Linked DNA regions of Homo sapiens. The protein of the gene in region 4 purifies or fractionates together with the protein of the main gene of each other region. This does not show direct contact. Each region holds a gene or a part of one and is shown on either strand. Other genes may lie near its edges. The genes, in order: SLC25A30, OLFM2, PCSK6, C4BPB, SLC25A16 and MTO1.

Region 1 (3,500 bases), on a different chromosome or scaffold from region 4:
TCTCAAAATGCTGGGATTACAGGCGTGAGCCATCATGGCTGCTGCAAATACTTATTGCATGAAGAATAGATTTAAGATAAAATAGACTTCCCAGAGAACAGCTTCCGCTGCACTACACTGAATACATACACGCATACCAAGGTATCAAAGTAGCTGATTACTTCTTGAGGTCACAGTAAAAATTAAGATCACTGATAAAGTAAGATTGGAAATTGTTGATTTGAGGTTGAGGAAATAGGGGTGCTTTGCTTTATTAAGGGGAGGCTCCCCTTGGGAATTGCTGCAGGGGTTTTGGTGATAGCACTCTCCAAATAAAACCTAGGGGAAGAGTTTGGAGAAGAAACTGCCTGTGTGAGAAGTTACAGCTTGATAATATCTTATTGTTGTGTCCAGGAAAAACAGCACTGGAGGCAATGTTTCTATAAATCAAAGAAGAGACAGTGTGAGAATGTCAGCCCTCAACTGGAAGCCGTTTGTGTACGGGGGGCTGGCCTCCATCACTGCTGAGTGCGGTAAGGACCTGAGGGTGGTGGATCACGTAGCCTGCTGTATGTGATGGTGTTTGATGTGAATGTAGTTCAAGTGTAGAATGTGAGATGATGAAATGTTTGTCTCAGAATTCAAAATGTCTGTTAGCTGGGTGTGGTGGCTCACGCCTATAATCTCAGCACTTTAGTAGGCTGAGGAAGGGGAATCTCTTGAGTCCAGGAGTTCGACACCAGCCTGGGCAACAGAGTGAAACCTCACCTCTATTAAAAAAAAAAAAATTAGCCAGGTGTGGTGGCACAGGCCTGTAGTCCCCGCTACTCGGGAGGCAGAGGTGGGAGGATTGCTTGAGTCCAGGAGGTCGAGGCTGCAGTGAGCCATGTGTGAACCACTGCACTCTCCAGCCTGGGTGACAGAGTGAGACCCAGTCTCAAAAAAAAGAAAGTTTTCTTTTGGTAATGCTTTTTAAGACAAAATAGTCATTTTGGCTGCTATTAGCAGTTTAGGGTTCGAAGTTTAGTGGAGAGAAAGTTGATCCTATTGACCAAACACAAGTTTTTTAAAATTTTTTGTTTTGAGACAGGGTCTGGTTCTGTTGCTGAGGCTGGAGTGCAGTCGTCTGATCTCGGCTCACTCCAGCCTCCGCCTCCCGTGCTCAAGCGGTCCTCCCACCCGGGTCTCCCAAGTAGGTGAGACTACAGATGTGCACCACCATGCCCGGCTAATTCTTGTATTTTTATTAGAGATGGAGTTTTGCCATGTTGCCCAGGCTGGTCTCGACTCCCAAGCTCAAGAGATCCACTTGCCTCGGCCTCCCAGAGTGCTGGGATTATAGGTGAGACTACAGATGTGCACGACCACGCCCGGCTAATTCTTATATTTTTATTAGAGATGGAGTTTTGCCATGTTGCCCAGGCTGGTCTCGACTCCCAAGCTCAAGAGATCCACCTCCCTTGGCCTCCCAAAGTACTGGGATTATTACCATGCTCAGCCTCAAACACAAGTTTTATGAATCATTTTTGGATTGTGTCTGTCCGTTTTCCTTGTCCTTTCCCCCAGCTTTGCCACTGTTAACCTGTTTGGCTGTAAAGAGGTTTGAGAAGCTCAAGGGTGTTCCCTGAGCCAGATGAGATGGACTGTAGTTATCTAGTCACTTTCTGATGATGCACATTATCCAGTTCCCATTTGTGACTTCCTCATCGGTTGGGTTCCACATCAGATCCTGTTTGTTTATTCTCTGGAGTCATTCATTCAGCAAACACTGATTGAGCAGCTGTTGAATGCCCTGTGCTGGGTTGGGGACACATCATTGCTTCCAGGGCTCAGTCACTGCTGTCCAAGGATAGAATACTGCCCCTGTGGGACTGGGGAGAATTGAGGCCAAGGTGGGTAAGCTGGATGAGCCGTGGTAACCACCCACTCACCAGCTTAGGCTCTCTGTGCTGGTGGGCTTTCCCATTGACACAGTGAATCAAGGTTACTGTCTGAGGATGGGTTTTATATATTTGGGTGGACTATTTGTTAGGTACAGTATTTAACATATTTATCTGCATTATCAGATTTATTTTATTTTATTTTGGAGACAGAGTCTCACTCTGTCACCCTGTCTGGAGTATGGTGACGTGATCTCGGCTCACTGCAACCTCTGCCTCCTGGGTTCAAGCAATTCTCCTGCCTCAGCCTCCTGAGTAGCTGGGGTTACAGGTGCCTGCCACCACGCCCAGCTAATTTTTGTATTTTTAGTAGAGACGGGGTTTCACCATGTTGGCCAGGTTGGTTTGGAACTCCTAACCTCAGGTGATCCGCCCACCTCAGCCTCCCAAAGTGCTGGGATTACAGGCATGAGCCACTGTGCCTAGCCAGATTAATTTTAGACTATAAAACACTCTCCCAAGTGGAAAACCACTTTAGAAAATGAACTTTTTTTACCTCTTTGTTCACATTCAACCCCATTTTAACCTTCATTTATATACAGAATAGTAACTTATGTTTTTCAATGGATTTCCTGTTTAGGTAAATCATACCACGTATTTGCTTTCTACAACAATGCAGCCTACCCAAATCCTGTGTAGAATAAGATGAGGTATAAATAAAAAGATAAAGAAAGGAAAATATATCTATGCATTTTTTGGGTTTTATTAATCTTTTGATTCCTCAATTTTTAAAAATATAAACAAGATTGCAAAGTGCCATTTCTTAATCACTTTCTTAGTTTATATTGTAGTCTGAATGTTTCCTCAGTAATATATCACTACGTATCCTTTATTTAGTGGAATTTCTTTTTATTAAGTGAATTTCTTTTTAAATTTTAAGGTACATTTCCAATTGATTTAACCAAGACACGGCTCCAGATTCAAGGCCAGACGAATGATGCAAAATTTAAGGAAATTAGATACCGAGGAATGTTGCACGCATTAGTGAGGATAGGCAGAGAAGAAGGGCTGAAAGCACTCTACTCGGGGTGAGTAGGCCTTCATGCATTTCTGTGTCACTGTTCACTGTTTCACATGGGTATAGACTTCAGACCAAGACTGCACAGATCACAAGTAAAAAGTTTGAGGTGTGTTTGAAAAGAACAAATAGCATGACAGATTTTTCACTTTTAATTTCAACTCTAATTTCTAAGTATATATATTATGCAGCAGATGTTTTGGTGAAACTGTTTTACTATATTCAAGTACAGACAGACAACAATAAAAAATTATGTTTGTTTAAAAACATTCTGTTCGGTTTTTCATGCTTTGAAAATAGCTCTTTTTCTTAGATATTCTGAATTAAGGAGGTTTTTGCCATAATGAAAATTATATGATGTTGATAAGAGTTGCAGTGAACTACTTTCCAGTCTTTCAGTATTTAATGAACAGTATTCTGTAGGCACTGGATAGTGAGTGAGACCTATATCAGAATACCTGCAGGAACAGAACGTGGACAGCCTCATGTCACGCTAAGCATCTTGATTTTCTCCAGTACACCACAGCACAAACTGGTGACCCACAGCCCTGCCATGGATCCAC
Region 2 (3,500 bases), on a different chromosome or scaffold from region 4:
GCAACAAGAGCGAAACTCCATCTCAAAAAAAAAAAGAAAGAAAGAAAGAAATCCACACATACCATATGGTTGGCCTACATGGATACAGTCACTGGTGTGATGATGATACAAGCATGTCCCTGTGCTCATGGTCCCTGAACATGCACACAGTCACCAAACATACACATACACGCATGACACCACAGACACATGCCTATGGGGCCAAAGTTAGAGTGAGGCAAGTTATGCAAGTGCAGAGGGGGAGCCCATATTTATTTAAAAATTTGTTTTTATTCATTATAGATTTTTCTTGCATCAATTTAGATTTTTCTTAAAATGTTCCATTAAAATATTATTTATCTTGGTTACTGGTTTTTATTTTTTTGGGGGGCATACCCTTAAATTTTGTACTATAGCTGAACTCTGTACCATGTACCTGTCACCCTAGCTACTCAGGAGGCTGAGGCAGAAGAATCACTTGAGCCCAGGAGTTGGAGGCTTCAGTGAGCTATGACTGCACCACTGCACTCCAGCATGGGTGACAGAACAAGACCCCGTCTTAGAAATAGGCCCGGCACCGTGGCTCACGCCTGTAATCCCAGCACTTTGGGAGGCCAAGGCGGGCAGATCATCTGAGGTCTGGAGTTCGAGACCAGAGTGGGCAACGTGGTGAAACCCTGTCTCTATTAAAAATACAAAAAAAAAAAAATTTAGCCGGCTGTGGTGCTGTGCGCCTATAATCCCAGCTACTCGAGAGGCTGAGCAGGAGAATCGCTTGAACCCGGGAGGCAGAGATTGCAGTGAGCCGAAATCGCACCACTGCACTCCAGTGTGGACGACACAGCAAGACTCTGTTTCAAATATCATCATCATCATCATCATCAACTTTTTAAAATGTTTGCACCCGCGGCGAGTATCTCACCTGTTTTACCCTGACCTGGGCACCCCCATCCCACATACGCACGCGCCCACGCACAGGTGCACAACCACACACATTCACCCACCAGTCACACAGACGCACACAGTCCCTGCACAAACCTCACTCGACCACTAGATGTCGCTCAAGCTCCATAATCTTAAATCCAGCCCCAAGGGGCTCTTTCCTACACTAACTCGGAGTCTTTAAATTTCCTTTTACTTCCCTCCACTGGGACATTTACATGCTCTAAAGGAGCCCCAGGAGAACATCGTCTTACCCCTAAACAACAGTGCCCTATCGGTGGAATGTCAGGCACAGGTAAAGAAGATGGGTTTTCTTTCTTTCTTTTTTGTGGAGACAGGGTCTCAGTCTGTCGCCCAAGCTGGAGTGCAGTAGTGCAATGATAGCTCACTGCAGCCTCAAACTCCTGGGCTCAAGTGATCTTCACACCTCAGCCTCCTGAGTAGAACTACAAGCCTGGCCAATTTTTTTTAAAGTTACTGCAGAGGCCGGGCACGGTGGCTCACGCCTGTAATCCCAGCAGTTTAGGAGGCCGAGGCAGACAAATCAAGATGTCAGGAGTTCGAGACCAGCCTGGCCAAAATGGTGAAACCCCATCTCTACTAAAAATACAAAAATTAGCTGGGTGTGGTGGCACGCCCCTGTAGTCCCAGCTACTCGGGAGGCTGAGGCACTAGAATCTCTTGAGCCCGGGAGGCAGAGGTTGCAGTGAGCTGAGATCATCACAATACTGTACTGTACTCCAGCATGGGTGACAGAACAAGACTCCATCTCAAAAATAAAAAAAAAAAAAGAAATAAAAAGAAAAAGTTATTGTAGAGATGGGATCTTGCTGTATTGCCCAGGCTGGTCTCAAATTCCTGGCCTCAAGAGACCCTCTGGCTTTGGTCTCCCAAAATGCTGGGATCATAGGTATCAGCCATCACACCTGGCCTGAAGAATGGATTTTCTTGGTGCCTTCCATCCAGGAGCGAGTGTTCCCCTGACACTCTCTTGATAAAAGAATCCTGTGGTTTGAGAAAGAAAGACACTCTGTGTGTGTGAGGGGGTCCATCCATCCATCCATTCATCCATTCAGCAGATATTTCTTGAGCACCTACTGTGTGTCAGGCTCTGCTCTAGACACTGGAGAAACAACAAAGCTAGCTGAACCCTGATAAACTGCCGCTCTAGTGGGGAAACAGAGAATGAATGAATAGAAGAATCATAGAAATGTGGAAACGAGGGCTATAAAGAAAAATATGGCCGGGCGTGGTGGCTCATGCCTATAATCCCAGCACTTTGGGCGGCAGATCACCTGAGGTCAGGAGTTCAAGACCAGCCTGGCCAACATGGTGAAACCCTGTCTCTACTAAAAATACAACAAAAACTAGCTGGGCATCAGGTGGCACGTGCCTGTAGTCCCAGCTACTCGGGAGGCTGAGGCACGAGAATCACTTGAACCGGTGAGGCAAAGCTTGCAGTGAGCCGAGATTGCGCCACTGCACTCCAGCCCAGGCAACAGAGTGAGACTCAGTCTCAAAAAAAAAAAAAAAAAGAAAGAAAGAGAGAGAAAGAAAAAGAACACGGAGTAAGCACTCAGAGAGTGGCAGCAGGGGGCTATTTCACTTAGCTGTTCAGGGTGAGCCTCTTGGAGGAGGTGACATTTAAGCAGAAATCAGAGATAAATAGCTACCAGGGGGAACAGTGTCACAGGCAGAGGGAACAGCAAGTGTGAAGTCCCTGAGGCACGTGATCTAAACTGAATTATTCCTTCTCCCCATCCTCTGAAAGCCCCAGGAAAGAGTTGGTCCCAAACCCAGATAGTGCCAACGATGTAGCTAGATCTTAGGGAGGCCTTCGCAGGGATCAGGAAGGCATCTTTTCCACAAGGAAAATAGTGGGGCTCAGAACTGTCAAGCTCTCTGGTAGTCACTCCCAGGCCAGAACCCAGAACATCTTGGATAGATCCTGGATGAATGGACAATGCCTCTGACAGGCCCTGCTTTCCTGTTCTCCTGCTCTCTGGGTCAAATCCAAACTTCTGCCCACAGCTTACAAGTTCCTAAGTGGTCTGGCTTCCCCGGCCTCATCTCCCCGCGACCTCTCCAGCCACACCAGCGTCCACACTGCTTCTGAAACTCACCAAGCTTGTTCTTACCCCAGGGCCTTTGCACCTTCTGTTCCTCCCACCTTCAATGCTCTTCCCCCAGACACCCACAAGGCTCCCTCTCTCACCTCCTTCAGATGTCACCTGAAACACTACTTCCTTAGAGACACCTTCCCTGACCACACTGGCTCAAATAGCCCCCACCTTGTAATCTTTTTCTGTTTTTTTGCTTTGAGACAGTCTTGTTCTGTTGCCTAGGCTGGAGTGCAGTGGCATGACCTTGGCTCACTGGAACCTCTGCCTCCCAGGTTCAAGCAATTCGCCTGCCTCAGCCTCCTGAATAGCTGGGACTACAGGTGTGCAACACCACACCTGGCTAATTTTTTGCATTTTTAGTAGAGACGGGGTTTCACCATGTTGGCCGGGCTGGTCTCAAACTCCTGACCTCAAGTGATCCACTCACCCTGGCCTCCCAAAGTGCTGGGATTACAG
Region 3 (3,500 bases), on a different chromosome or scaffold from region 4:
CAGTGGTCATACATTTTATGCCCTCAAACCTATCTTATTTATAGTCTGACCAAACCGTCCCCAGACTGCTCAGTGGCAGGCAACGAGCAGGTAGACTGCTGGCCCTTTGTCACATGTGAGGATGGCCCAGGGTTCGCCAGCTGGGCCGGGGAGATTTACTACACAGCCGCAGAAAAGCACGGGGAGAAGAGTGATGTGTGATGCCAAGCGCCTTTCTTTTCTGCTTTGGTCTTGAAGATTCAGTAAACTTATGGTCCCAGAAGCTGCTCCAAAGCCAGAGCTGTGGATTCCCAGAATTCATTTTGTTCCTGTTAGTTTGTCGGAAGACTGGAGCCAACAAGCAGCATTTGAGAGGATATCACCATTTTAGGAACACCTCCTTAAGAGCCACCACCCACCTGGCTTGGGTGCTCAGAGATGCTGCTCCTGGGGAGATAAAGCTGTCAGGTGCAGGGCGCCGCTCCTGAAACAGACTCTGGCCGACAGTCTGGAGGAAGGTGGACGGATGGATGGATGGGAGTGCCTGCCCTCTGTGGGCAGCTAGGCACCCTTACCCGGCCAGGAGGCACGTGCGGCAGCAGAACTGAATGAAGAGCTTCCGTTCGCACAGCCGGTTGGACTTCACCATCTCGCAGAATGTCTCGTCAGCTGGGGCCCCGCATCAGGAAAGGCAAAAGAGGGAAAGGTCAGTCTTCGGTGCCTGTGAAGATTGTTTCAAGGCCGGGCGCGGTGCCTCATGCCTGTAATCCCAGCACTTTGGGAGGCCGAGGTGGGTGGATCACCTGAGGTCAGGAGCTTGAGACCAGTCTAACCAACATGGTGAAACCCCGTCTCTACTAATAATATAAAAATTAGCTGGGCATGGTGGTGGGCACCTGTAATCCAAGCTACTCGGGAGGCTAAAGCAGGAGAACCACCTGAACCCAGGAGGCAGAGGTTGCAGTGAGCTGAGATCATGCCACTGCACTCCAGCCTGGGCAAGAAGAACAAAACTCCGTCTCAAAAATAAATAAATAAATACATAAATAAATATTGTTTCAATCATTCCACATATGCTGGGCATCAGTGGTGCCCTGGGCAAGAGGGACACAGACAGAGGTGGGCAGCAGGATGGCAGCCCTTGAAGCCCCTCTCCTGCAATGCACTTGACTCTGGGAGCCCTGTGTGGCGGGAGGGCACTGGTATATGGGGCTCTTGCTGAGTCTCAGTGACAAGGGGATTCATGAGCAGGATGTGGGGGTGGTGTGGGAGGGATCTCAGGAGAACACCCAGCCTGGGCCTGTGGGGCACATGTGCACCTGTCTTTCTGGACAACTGCTGGCAGTGGAGCTTAGGAGGAAGACTGTAGGGGAGGCCGGAGGACGGGCCTGGAGGCAGGAGGGAATGGAAGCTGCTTCCAGGGTGGAGGGGGCGGACAGGGAGGAGTGGGGATGGGGGGAAGGGAGCCGCCGTGGACAGGACTTGCTGAGGACACCGCTGCAGCAAGGGGAAGAGGCCTTTGAGGATGCATCATCCGTGGACCTGGGAGGCCCTCCAGTGGCAACCACACTTTTTTGGGCTAGATACATAACCTGGGCAGGTGACTTCCCAAAGAAGTAGTTTCTGGGCCTTTGAAGGGACATAATTAGACAACCCTCCCGCCACCCCCCAAAAATAATAACCAGTAACAAGGCAAGGAGGCATCCCAGGGCCCTCCACAAGCTCCATGCTCTGCCTGGACAGGGCCAGTGCCAGCTTCATACCCAAGGACCACCTGCCCTGACCCTGGACACTGGAGCAGAGAGCCTTCCTCTCCTGGCTGTCAGAATGTGGCTCCACCCTGCTGCTTGCTGGGCCAGAGCCCCCTTCCCTGCCCGTGTGTCTACAATGACTCCTGCACTGCACCTCCAGGCCCGAGTCCTGCCAACCCTCCTTGGTGCCTGGAATTCCCAAACTGGGCACTTAGCTTTGGTGCCCTTTTAAGTTTCTGTTTTTACAACTTGTCCTTGTCCCCCATCCTATGGCAGAGCCAGGGCTCTCCTGCAGCACAGATGCAGGTCCATGCTGGATCCCTGCAGAGCTGGGATTGCTGCTGCTGAGCGTGTGCTCTACTCTGGGCTCTGTCCCCCTCGTCCTGAGCAGAGACCCTCCAGGCTTCCTGGCTTTGACCCCCCAGGTCAGGCTTCTTTTATGGTATGTCGTCACATCCGGGCCACCGGCGGCCTATGGCATGGCAGTGGGACCAGTACAAGGACAAAATCATTTTTAGGAGTCACTCAATAAACAGATCAGCAGTGGCTGGGATGCCTCTCTGATCGATGTGAGAGGCCTAGAGGGAAGCTGGGAGACAGGGCAGCTGTCTTCCATATCAGCTAGAGGAATCCCAGACAGTCAATCGGATCAGGGGCACGAACGCCTGTCTGTGGAGCCGCCATGCCTATGTGGCTTTGCTTTTCTCTTTGGAGCACGAGCTGGCCAGCTGAGCTCCTCCACAGGCAGCCCCAGGGTAACCCAGCTGCTGCTCACCGTTGCTGCACGTGTGGTTGGTGATGCAGGAGGTCCCCAGCTGTGTGAAGCCCGTCTTACACCTGCTACAGTTCCTGCTGGAGCCTGCACAGCTCAAGCAGTTCTCGTCACACCTGTGGGAAGATACCGTTCCTGCTGAAGTCTGGGGAAGAGGCTCCACCACTCCGGGCTCCCTTCCCAGAACCCTCACCTCCCTGCACCTCCTTCCCACCCCCTCAGCCTCGGTCCTCTGTGGAGAGGCTGTGTCGCCCACCATTCCCTGACACAGGGGCTGAGTGTCTGCATGTCTTTTCTCCTGTCTGACCTCACTATTGCCCTGGGAGGGCAGAGACAGCCATGGCCAGTTGGCAGGAGCAAGCCCAGGATCAGGGGCCAGGCCTCCGAGGCTTCCCGCAGCTCACCTGGACACCCTCCTGGGCCCTGGCACCCAGCCCCCACCCCACCACACGGCTCCCAGAGCTGTGTCAGTCTTCTCTCTCCAGCGGCTGCCGGGCTGCGATGGCTGTAGGCTTGGGGTCCAGGCCAGACTCCACCCAGGGATGTGACACACCTGACTCGAGCTGACCAGAAGGCTGCTGTCACCTATATGTGGCCATGCCTGCTTACCCTCGGGGAGTGGGAGAGATGCCCCACAATTCCTGCCCCTCTCGGACGGTCCTGGCCCAGCCTGCGCAGAGATGGACACCAGCCAGGGCTATTTCTAATGCAGGGTAAACGTGACCTCAGGGGACGGTTGGTGCACTACAGCCCAAGGGCCACATCCAGCATTTATCCTGGACCACAGTCACACTCATTCATTGACAATCTTTTGTGTAGCAGTGGCTGAGCTGAGTAGCTGTGACAGAGGCAGTGTGGCCCCAAAAGCCTGAACGACTGACCATTGTGCCCTCTACAGAAAGCACTTGCCGATGCGGGCCGAGTGCTTGAAGGAGCACGTTTCCCATCCTGGGGCCGTGAGTGCACCCCGGCTATGCTGCTGCCTGTCCTGAGTCCAG
Region 4 (3,500 bases):
CTAATGCCTGATGATCTGTCACTGTTTCCCAACACTCCCAGATGAGAATCTAATGCCTGATAATCTGTCAGTTTCCCATCACTCCTAACTAGATGGGACCCTCTAGTTGCAGGAAAACAAGCTCAGGGCTCCCACTGATTCTACATTATGGTGAGTTATATAATCATTTTATTATATATTACAATGTAATAATAATAGAAATAAAGTACACAATAAATGTAATGCATCTGAATCATCCCCAAACCATCCCCACTCTCCCCACCCCCATCCGTGGAAAAGTCATCTTCCATGATACCCATCCCTGGTGCCAAAAAGGTTGGGAACCACTGCTCTATAAGGCACATGAGACAACAACTTCTACCAACAGGGTCTCATGAGGTATTTGTGATGATGGTAGTGAATGGGAACTTCCAACTTCCATTTATAAAAATGTGAGTTAATAGTTTATGAGTCCCTTCTACAGCCAGGCCAAGGCCAACCCATTCAAAAGCAAAATGTCCCACATTAAACAGATATATACTGAGCATATGCCAGGAGTGATGCCAGGCCCTGGAGATCCAGCTGTGAACAAGACAGATATGAGCCTCCTACTTACAAGTGCCTTCTCACACTCTGGTTTGGGAGCTTCCTGGATCAACTTGCAGACTGGAAGTGCACTGCTCCACTCCCCATCAACGCATTGCTGCTCCTGCACGCCCACTAAGTAGTACCTGAACAGAAATTAGAACAAGGCTTAGCTTTTCCACTTTCTGAATTGGGTAATGGAGACTGGTTTTGTGTAGTTGTATTTCAGTATTTCATGCTGTGATGGAATCCACCTCCCTGCCCTTGAGCCTCAATGCATGCTTAAGTTATCTCGGTATTACAAAGCAGTTCAAAGTAAAACCATTTTCCTGGAGGTAGGAGAGGACCCAAGTGATGAGTCAACCCATAAAACATAGAGAAGTGAGAAATTCTGAATCAGGTGTTTACACACCCAGGTTTTGGGTGGGGAGAGTGATAGAAGCACTTTATCATTCAATAACCTAAAAAGGCATCTGGCATCTAAGCTCTAAAAAGGAGTAGAAAATGAGAGACACCTGCAAATAAATCTTAGCGAAGGGGCTAAAAAGGAGCAATTGCTTTTCATCAGAAAAATATGAGAGTTGCCTGCAAAGTGCATTGAAGGTATATAACGAGATCGAAATGCCAGTGAGGCCACATGACTCTGAGTTAATTAGGGGGCTTTAAGGGTCTATACACTAAGTCTTTATATTTCTGCACTTCTATGTTTGTTTTTTAGTATTTATATTCTCTGATTTTTTTTTTTTTTTTTTTTTAGAAAAACATACATTTTAGGCCAGGCACAGTGATTCATGTTTGTAATTCCAGCACTTTCCAGGACTTTGGGAAACCAAGGTGGGAGGATCACTTGAGCTCAGGAGTTCAAGACCAGCCTGAGCAACATAGGGAGACCCTGTCTCTACAAAACCTTAAAAAATTAGCCAAGCGTGGTGACCCATGCCTGTAGTCCCAGCTATTAGAGAGGCTGAGGTGGGAGGATCTCGTGAGCCTAGGAGGCAGAGGTTGCAGTGAGCTATGAGTACACCACTGCACTCCAGCCTGGGTGACAGAGGGAGACACTGTCTCAAAAATAACAACAACAAAAAAACAAAAAACCCATACATTTTATTTATTTATTTATTTTAAAACAGAGTATCACTTTTCCACCTGGGTTAAAGTGCAGTGGTGCCATCTAGGCTCACTGCAACCTCCGCCTCCTGGGTTCAAGCGATTCTCATGCCTCAGCCTCCTGAGTAGCTGGGATTACAGGAGTGTGCCACCACGCCCAGCTAATTTTTGTATTTTTAGTAGAGACAAGGGTTTTGCCATGTTGGCCAGGCTGGTCTTGATCTCCTGGCCTCAAGCAAACCGCCTGCCTTAGCATCCCAAAGTGCTGGGATTACAGGTGTGAGCCATCACGCCCAGCCAAATCCATTCATTTTAAATAATTTATCTTGTCTTGGCGGAGAGGAAAAAGAGATACTTGCATTGGGGTAAGTAGGATACTTTAGTAGGATCAGTCTGTCTTCTAGGGATTGAGGAGAGCTAGCAGAGGGCCAAAGCAGCTCTCAAAATCAGAATGAGCTTAGAATCCTGCAGCAGTAGGAAATCAGATGACCAGGTGGACACAGACTGGGTTATTCCCCAAAACAATGCTGCCAAGGGGCAAGATCTGGCATTTGACAGGCTGTGTTCACTTACCTGTCTTCACAGTAATAACTAATGGTGGATCCTAAGGTGAAGTTATTTCCTTCAAAATAGCCATGAACTGGATTCCCAGGAGGGTCACAGTCCCCTGAGAGAAACGAGTATAGAAGTCATAGTTATGAGGGCCAGGCACGCTCAATGAACAGCACCCCTAATTGCAGCTGTTTATGCCAGCACCTGACAGCCTCAGAGCAACACCTGCGCCAGCACCTGACATCCTCACAGCAACACCTGCGGGATCTGGAAACCTGTTCTTCATTCATTTCCTTCTCTTCTAAATCATATTTGTCCATGGGAAAGAGCTTTCCCCCAGCCCATCTTCTGAGTTAGTAGGGATTTGGGAGTATTATCTGACAGCAGGAGCTCAAGGAAAGAAATTTTAAGTTGTAGAGAAGCTAATTGTTAATGTACAAGAAAAGAAAAATTGGGCCATAGGTGAAGGCTGAAGAAATAACTCCCTGAGAGAGGAGATGAAGCGTGTGAGCTCAAGTGGAAGCTGACATCCCCTGTGGATAAGAGTTGTGAAACATGAGTGTATTAGTCCATCTCACATTGTGATACAGAAATACCTGAGACTGGGTAATTTATAAAGAAAAGAGGTTTAATTGGCTCACAGTTCTGCAGGCTGTACAGGAAACATGGTGCTGGCATCTGCTCGGCTTCTGGGGAGGCCTCGGAAAACTTACAATCATGGCAGAAGGCAAAGGGGGAGGGAGGCATCTCACATAACAGGTGCAGGAACGAGAGAGGGAGGAGGCGTTACACACTTTTAAACAACCAGATCTCATGAGAACTCACTCGCTGTCATGAGGACAGTACCTAGGGAGATGGTGCTAGACCATTCATGAGAAATCCACCCGCATGATCCAGTCACCTCCCACCAAGCACCACCTCCAACACTGGAGATTACAATTCAATATGAGATTTGAGCAGGAACACACATCCAAACTATATCAAAGAGAGTATCAGAAAAAGGGGAGAAGGTGGGAGCAGTGGCTCACACCTGTAATCCCAGCACTTTGGGAGGCTGAAGGGGGTGGATCACCTGAGGTCAGGAATTTGAGACCAGCCTGGCCAACATGGTGAAACCCAGTCTCTACTAAAAATACAAAAATTAGCCCAGCGTGGGTGCGCACCTGTAATCCCAGCTACTTGGGAGGCTGAGGCATGAGAACTGCTTGAACCTGGGAGGTGGAGGTTGCAGTGAGCCAAGATTCTGCCACTGCACTCCAGCCTGGGAAACAGAGCAA
Region 5 (2,513 bases), on a different chromosome or scaffold from region 4:
TGTGAAATATTTATTAATATAGATGTGAATATCAAAAAATGTTTCTAAGGTATTATGATGCATCAACTAGTTCTTCCATGTAAAATAATTTTAGTGCAATATGAAGACGTAGAAATGTAAAATATGATTTGAATTGTTATCCTTTATATTAAGAAAATGTTTTAAAATGTAAGAATTCCATTTATTCTGTTTAGAGTACTTTTTATGATTTATTATAAGCGTGTCATAAATGGGAAGGGAATATTTAAAGTTCTGTGTTCAGAAAGAGTAATTTGTAGAACTGATGTGACTTTTTTTTTTTTTTTGAGATGGAGTCTCGCTCTATCGCCCAGGCTGGAGTGCAGTGGCGCGATCTCAGCTCACTGCAACCTCTGCCTCCCGGGTTCAAGTGATTCTCCTGCCTCAGTCTCCCGAGTAGCTGGGACTACAGGTGCCCACCACCAAAAATTCGCCTGGCTAATTTTTGTATTTTTAGTAGAGACGGGATTTCACCGTGTTAGCCAGGATGGCCTCGATCTCCTGAACCTCATGATCTGCCCACCTTGGTCTCCCAAAGTGCTGAGATTACTGGCGTGAGCCACGGCGCCCGGCCCTTTGATGTGACTTTAAAGACATTAGAAGGCCAGGTGTGGTGGCTCACGCCTTTATTCCCAGCACTTTGGGAGGCCGAGTTGGGTGGATCACCTGAAGTCAGGAGTTTAAGATCAGCATGGTGAAACCCCACCTCTACTAAAAATACAAAAAGTAGCAGGTGTGGTGGCTCGTGCCTGTAGTCCCAGTTACTCGCGAGGCTGAGACATGAGAATTGCTTGAGCTCGGGAAGCGGAGGTTGCAGTGAGCTGAGATCACACCACTGCACTCCAGCCTGGGTGACAGAATGAGCCTCCATCTCAAAAAAAAGGAGACATTAGAAAACTAAGTTGAGTCCAGGCGTGGTGGCTCTTGCCTGTAACCCTAGCACTTTGGGAGGCTGAGGCGGGAGGATATCTTGACCCCAGGAGTTCGAGACCAGCCTGGGCAACATAGTGAGACCCCGTTTCTTTCAAACAAAAGAAGGAAAACTAAGTTGAAAGTGTTATTTTTGCTTCAATTTTTATTTCTTTACATAAAAGGTTTCTTGTCATACCTTGGTAAAAATTTGATGAGCTGGTTTCATTTTGAAAGCCTTTATTTTAAAAATAAGTATGTATCTTTGTATGATTTATAAGTGTACCAGTAGGTAGAAATACATGTGTTCTTGGCCAGATGTGGTGGCTCACGCCTGTAATCCCAGCATTTTGGGAGGCTAAGGCGAGTGGATCACCTGAGGTCAGGAGTTCAAGACCAGACTGGCCAACGTGGAGAAACCCTGTCTCTACTAAAAATACAAAAATCAGCCGGGCATGGTGGCGGGCGCCTGTAATCCCAGCTACTTGGGAGGCTAAGGCAGGGAGAATTGCTTGAACCCAGGAGGCACAGGTTGCAGTGAGCCAAGATTGCGCCATTGCACTCCAGCCTGGGTGGCTGTATAAAAGCCTGTATAAAAATTTCTTTTATACAGAGTGAGACTGTATAAAAGAAAAAAAAAGGCTGTACAAAAATTTCTTTTATACAGAGACTGTATAAAAGAAAAAAAAAAGAAATACATGTGTTCTTAAAACCATTTGTATATTTTCATTTCTAGACCACACTGTAGCTAATTATTGTTATTAAATGTTAAGATAATTTAAGTATATAAAATAAGTATTGAGCCGGGCATGGTGGCTCACCCCTGTAATCTCAGCACTTTGGGAGGCTGAGGCGGGGGGATCACGAGGTCAGGAAATCGAGACCATTGTGGCTAACACGGTGAAAACCTATCTCTACTAAAAATACAAAAAATTAGCTGGGCGTGGTGGCACGCACCTGTAGTCCCAGTTACTCAGGAGGCTGAGACAGGAGAATCACTTGAACCTGGGAGGCGGAGCTTGCAGTGAGCCGAGATCGTGCCACTGCATTCTAACCTGGGCGACAGAGCAAGACTCCATCTCAAAAAAAAAAAAAAAAAAAAAAAAGATACCTCAGTTAGGTTATCAGTAAAAGGGGATTGCAAATATCTTTTAAATAAAAATTTGCATTCTATATGTTATAGAATACAGAGGATATTAAAAATAAATTTTATCCATGTTTTGACAATTTCTTTCTTTCAACTGTTTACATATTGAAGCACAAATGCTAAACATAAGTCAGAATGGAAGAATATTTAAAATAATGACTGTGTTTATATCTGATTTATTTCAGATTGCCCAAAGTGCATCTTGCCAGGTTATCTTCCATTTGAAGACTGACATTTTATTTCTTTTTTGATCTTTATTGTTCCTCTCTTCCACCTCTCAGTGGGTATAGCTCTCTGGTCTGTAGAATGGGACAGTGGTCTGGTTTCCAGATTGATAAGTGAGGTATACCTCCTAGTTTTCAGTAATTACCTGTAGAAGGTGGAGAAGTTACTGGATATGTTTAATAATATCTCATTACATTCTTTTTTTTTTTTTTTT
Region 6 (3,500 bases), on a different chromosome or scaffold from region 4:
AAATGCTATTTTGTGATCCTGTCCATATTTTATAGGCCCAACAATAACAATTTTTTTGTGGTAAAATATACAAACCATAAAATGTACCATTTTAACCATTTTTAAGTGTACAATTCAGTGCTATTAAGTACATTGACAGTGTTGTGCACCCATCACCACCAACGGTCTCTTGAACTTTTTCATCATCCCAAATTAAAATTCTGTACCCATTAAACAAAAAGTCCCCATTACCTGAAGAATAAACCTCCATTTTACTGTAAGGTAGAGCTATCTGAGGACAAAACCTTAATGTGTAAATTTCAGCTGTTTCTTTCATTTTCTGTTCCAAGTTTCATTTCTACATTCCTCCTCAGTTCTTATTCTCAGTTCTCTAATTTCTGAGCCTTTGCAGGGCAAATTAGTTCATTCTCATTGATATATCTTCTCTTCAGATATTAATACTTAAGTTATAGCTATCTCCCCTCTGCTAGATGAGTTACCATTCTTCCAAACACTTTCTATCTTTCAAAAATACATTGAAATTTCTCATCTTCTGACTGGTTCTTTTTCATTACTTGTCCTTTTGGTTTTATACCTTTTTTATTCCCCTATTTAATTTTCTTTGAGTTTTAGAAGGGAGAAGAAATGAGAGGTTGTATGCCATATTTATCCTGAAGTCTAAAATTAATTAATTTTTTAAATTAATTGAGACTAACTTTTTAGTGCTGATATGATTTTAGGTACATGTGAATTGGTGATAACACATTGTATTCTCTCTCCTAGATTGCTTAGATTGAGATTGATAACATATTAGCCTTCTTACTCATTTAAAATTCTTTGTCTGGGGTAGGGGAAATGGGAAGATACTGCTCAAAGGTTATACATTTTCAGCTGTAAGTTGAATAAGTTCTAGCAATCTAGTGAGCAGTATGGTAACTGCAGTTAATAATAATGTATGATATACTTGAAATTTGCTAAGGGAGTAGATCATAAGTGTTCTCACCACACAAAACGTGTAACTATGTGAGGTGATGGTTATATTAATTAGCTTGATTATGGGTATCATCACAGAAGGTATACTTGTATCAAAACACCATGTTGCATACTCTAAATATATACAGTTTTTTATATGTCTGTTATATGTCGATAAGTCTTGAAAAAACAAAAATATTAAAAAAGATTCTCAAGTTTTTAAAGACTGATAGTTTTTCTGTAGTTGTAATGTAAAATAGTCACATTCCATTTTGATCCATGGTAACAATTTAAAAAATGACTTTAGGCCGGGCGCGGTGGCTCACGCCTGTAAGTAATCCCAGCGCTTTGGGAGGCAGAGGTGGGTGGATCACCTGAGGTCGGGAATTCGAGACCAGCCTGACCAACATGGAGAAACCCCATCTCTACTAAAAATATAAAACTAGCTGAGCGTGGTGGCGCATGCCTGTAATCTCAGCTACTCGGGAGGCTGAGGCAGGAGAATTGCTTGAACCCGGGAGGCGGAGGTTGCAGTGAGCGGACATTGCACCACTGCCCTCCAGCCTGGCGATAGAGTGAGACTTCATCTCAGATAGATAGATAGATAGATAGATACATAGATACATAAATACATAGATACATAGATAATGACTTTATTCTTTTTTCTTGTTATTTAGTGGATGGAAGCACAGTATATGCAGAGAGTGTGATTCTGACTACTGGGACATTTCTGAGAGGCATGATTGTAATTGGATTGGAGACGCATCCAGCAGGACGTTTAGGGGATCAGCCTTCTATAGGATTGGCTCAGACACTGGAGAAGTTAGGGTTTGTGGTGGGAAGGTTGAAGACTGGGACTCCACCCCGAATTGCCAAAGAGTCCATTAATTTCAGTATTCTAAACAAGCATATACCGGACAATCCATCCATACCATTCAGCTTTACCAATGAGACAGTATGGATTAAGGTAAGATACTTTACGAAAACCTGGCTTACAGCTGGTATTGGCTATTCACAGCAGGAAGTACTGTAACTTTTTTTTTTTTTTTTTGGCAGCAGTTCACTTTATAGCACTATTGCTTATAGTGCAAAGAAATGATTTTTTTTTTTTTTTTTTGAGATAAGGTCTCACCTTGTCACCCAGGCTGGAGTGCAGTGGTACAATTATGGGTCACTACAGCCTTGACCTCCTGGGCTCAAGTGATCCTCCCACCTCAACCCCCTTGAGTAGCTGAGACCATAGGCATGAGCCATTGTGCCTGGCTTTTTAAAATTTTTTTGAGAAATGGGGTTTCACTATGTTGCCCAGGCTGGTCTCGAACTCCTGGGCTCAAAGGATCCACCCCCCTTGGCCTCCCAAAGTGCTGGGATTGCAGGTGTAAACCACCGAACCCAGCCAAAGAAGTTATCCTTTTTTTTTTTTGTGGTGGAGACTTGCTCTGTCACCCAGACTGGAGAGCAGTGGCACGATCTCAGCTCACTGCAACGTCTGCCTCCTGGGTTCAAGCAGTTCTTCTGCCTCAGCCTCCCGAGTATACAGGCACGCGCCACCACACCCGGCTAATTTTTATATTTTTAATAGAGACAGTGTTTCACCATATTGGCCAGGCTGGTCTCGAACTCCTGACCTCGTGATCCACCCATTTCAGCCTCTCAAAGTGCTGGGATTATAGGCGTCAGCCACTGCACTCAGCCTAAAGAAGTAATCTCTAAAAGGGATTAGCTAACTTGGCTAATTGGGTATTTCCCCATAAATCGTAAATTTCTTTTTTTTGTTTTTTTGAGACAGTCTCAGTCTGTCGCCCTGCTGGAGCGCAATGGTGAAATCTTGGTGCACTGCAACTTCCGCATCCTGGGTTCAAGCGATTCTCCCACCTCAGCCTCCCTAGTAGCTGGGATTGCAAGCACCCGCCATCATGCCTGGCTAATTTTTATAGTTTTGTAGAGACGGGGTTTCACCATGTTGGCCAGGCTGGTTTTGAACTCCTGACCTTAGGTGATCCGCCTGCCTCAACCTCCCAAAGTGCTGGTGCTGGGATTACAGATGTGAGCCACTGCACCCGACTTTTTTTTTTTTCTTTTTTTGAGACGGAGTTTCGCCATTGTTGCCCAGGCTGGAGTGCAATGGCGCAATCTCGGCTTACTGCAACCTCCGCCTCCCAGGTTCAAGCAATTCTCCTGCCTCAGCCTCCTGAGTAGCTGGGATTACAGGCTCCTGCCGCCACACTGGCTAATTTTTGTATTTTTAATAGAGACGGTGTTTTGCCATGTTGGCCGGGCTGGTTTCAAACTCCTTACCTTAGGTAATCCACCCTCCTCAGCCTCCCAAAGTGCTAGCATTACAGGCGTGAGCCACCGTGCCTGGCAAATCTTAAATTTCATTACTTTTATAACCTTACATATTTTGTAAATTAAGCTTTTATTTTAAAAAATTTTTTCATTTATTATTATTTTTAATAGAGACAGGGTCTCGCCATATTGCCCAGGCTGGTCTCGTACTCCTGAGCTCAAGCCATCCGCCCACCTCAGCCTCTCAAAGTGCTGGGATT

What was found.
Region 1: the proteins of C4BPB (region 4) and SLC25A30 purify together in Homo sapiens (affinity purification with mass spectrometry, with the first as the bait; one large-scale study listed by BioGRID). This does not show direct contact.
Region 2: the proteins of C4BPB (region 4) and OLFM2 purify together in Homo sapiens (affinity purification with mass spectrometry; one large-scale study listed by BioGRID and IntAct). This does not show direct contact.
Region 3: the proteins of C4BPB (region 4) and PCSK6 purify together in Homo sapiens (affinity purification with mass spectrometry; one large-scale study listed by BioGRID and IntAct). This does not show direct contact.
Region 5: the proteins of C4BPB (region 4) and SLC25A16 purify together in Homo sapiens (affinity purification with mass spectrometry, with the first as the bait; one large-scale study listed by BioGRID). This does not show direct contact.
Region 6: the proteins of C4BPB (region 4) and MTO1 purify together in Homo sapiens (affinity purification with mass spectrometry, with the first as the bait; one large-scale study listed by BioGRID). This does not show direct contact.

What each region holds. Positions count from the first base shown.
Region 1 is NC_000013.11:45,408,374-45,411,873, reverse strand, and holds part of SLC25A30 (kidney mitochondrial carrier protein 1), read left to right. Parts: exon of another isoform or gene 1-141; intron 142-393; 5' UTR 394-448; coding exon 449-512; intron 513-2,799; coding exon 2,800-2,947; intron 2,948-3,500. UniProt on the Homo sapiens protein: Antiporter that transports inorganic anions (sulfate, sulfite, thiosulfate and phosphate) and, to a lesser extent, a variety of dicarboxylates (e.g. malonate, malate and citramalate) and, even more so, aspartate.
Region 2 is NC_000019.10:9,930,016-9,933,515, forward strand, and holds part of OLFM2 (noelin-2 isoform 2 precursor), read right to left. Parts: intron 1-3,500. UniProt on the Homo sapiens protein: Involved in transforming growth factor beta (TGF-beta)-induced smooth muscle differentiation.
Region 3 is NC_000015.10:101,304,708-101,308,207, forward strand, and holds part of PCSK6 (proprotein convertase subtilisin/kexin type 6 isoform PACE4-AI preproprotein), read right to left. Parts: exon of another isoform or gene 2,619-3,500; coding exon 2,506-2,618; intron 1,031-2,505; exon of another isoform or gene 649-1,030; coding exon 551-648; 3' UTR 1-550. UniProt on the Homo sapiens protein: Serine endoprotease that processes various proproteins by cleavage at paired basic amino acids, recognizing the RXXX[KR]R consensus motif.
Region 4 is NC_000001.11:207,095,360-207,098,859, reverse strand, and holds part of C4BPB (C4b-binding protein beta chain isoform 1 precursor), read right to left. Parts: coding exon of another isoform or gene 3,292-3,500; exon of another isoform or gene 2,831-3,291; intron 2,339-2,830; coding exon 2,245-2,338; intron 711-2,244; coding exon 596-710; intron 1-595. UniProt on the Homo sapiens protein: Controls the classical pathway of complement activation. It binds as a cofactor to C3b/C4b inactivator (C3bINA), which then hydrolyzes the complement fragment C4b.
Region 5 is NC_000010.11:68,480,011-68,482,523, reverse strand, and holds part of SLC25A16 (solute carrier family 25 member 16), read left to right. Parts: 3' UTR 1-2,513. UniProt on the Homo sapiens protein: May be involved in the transport of coenzyme A in the mitochondrial matrix. Very little is known about the physiological function of this carrier.
Region 6 is NC_000006.12:73,471,737-73,475,236, forward strand, and holds part of MTO1 (5-taurinomethyluridine-[tRNA] synthase subunit MTO1, mitochondrial), read left to right. Parts: intron 1-1,628; coding exon 1,629-1,918; intron 1,919-3,500. UniProt on the Homo sapiens protein: Component of the GTPBP3-MTO1 complex that catalyzes the 5-taurinomethyluridine (taum(5)U) modification at the 34th wobble position (U34) of mitochondrial tRNAs (mt-tRNAs), which plays a role in mt-tRNA decoding and mitochondrial translation.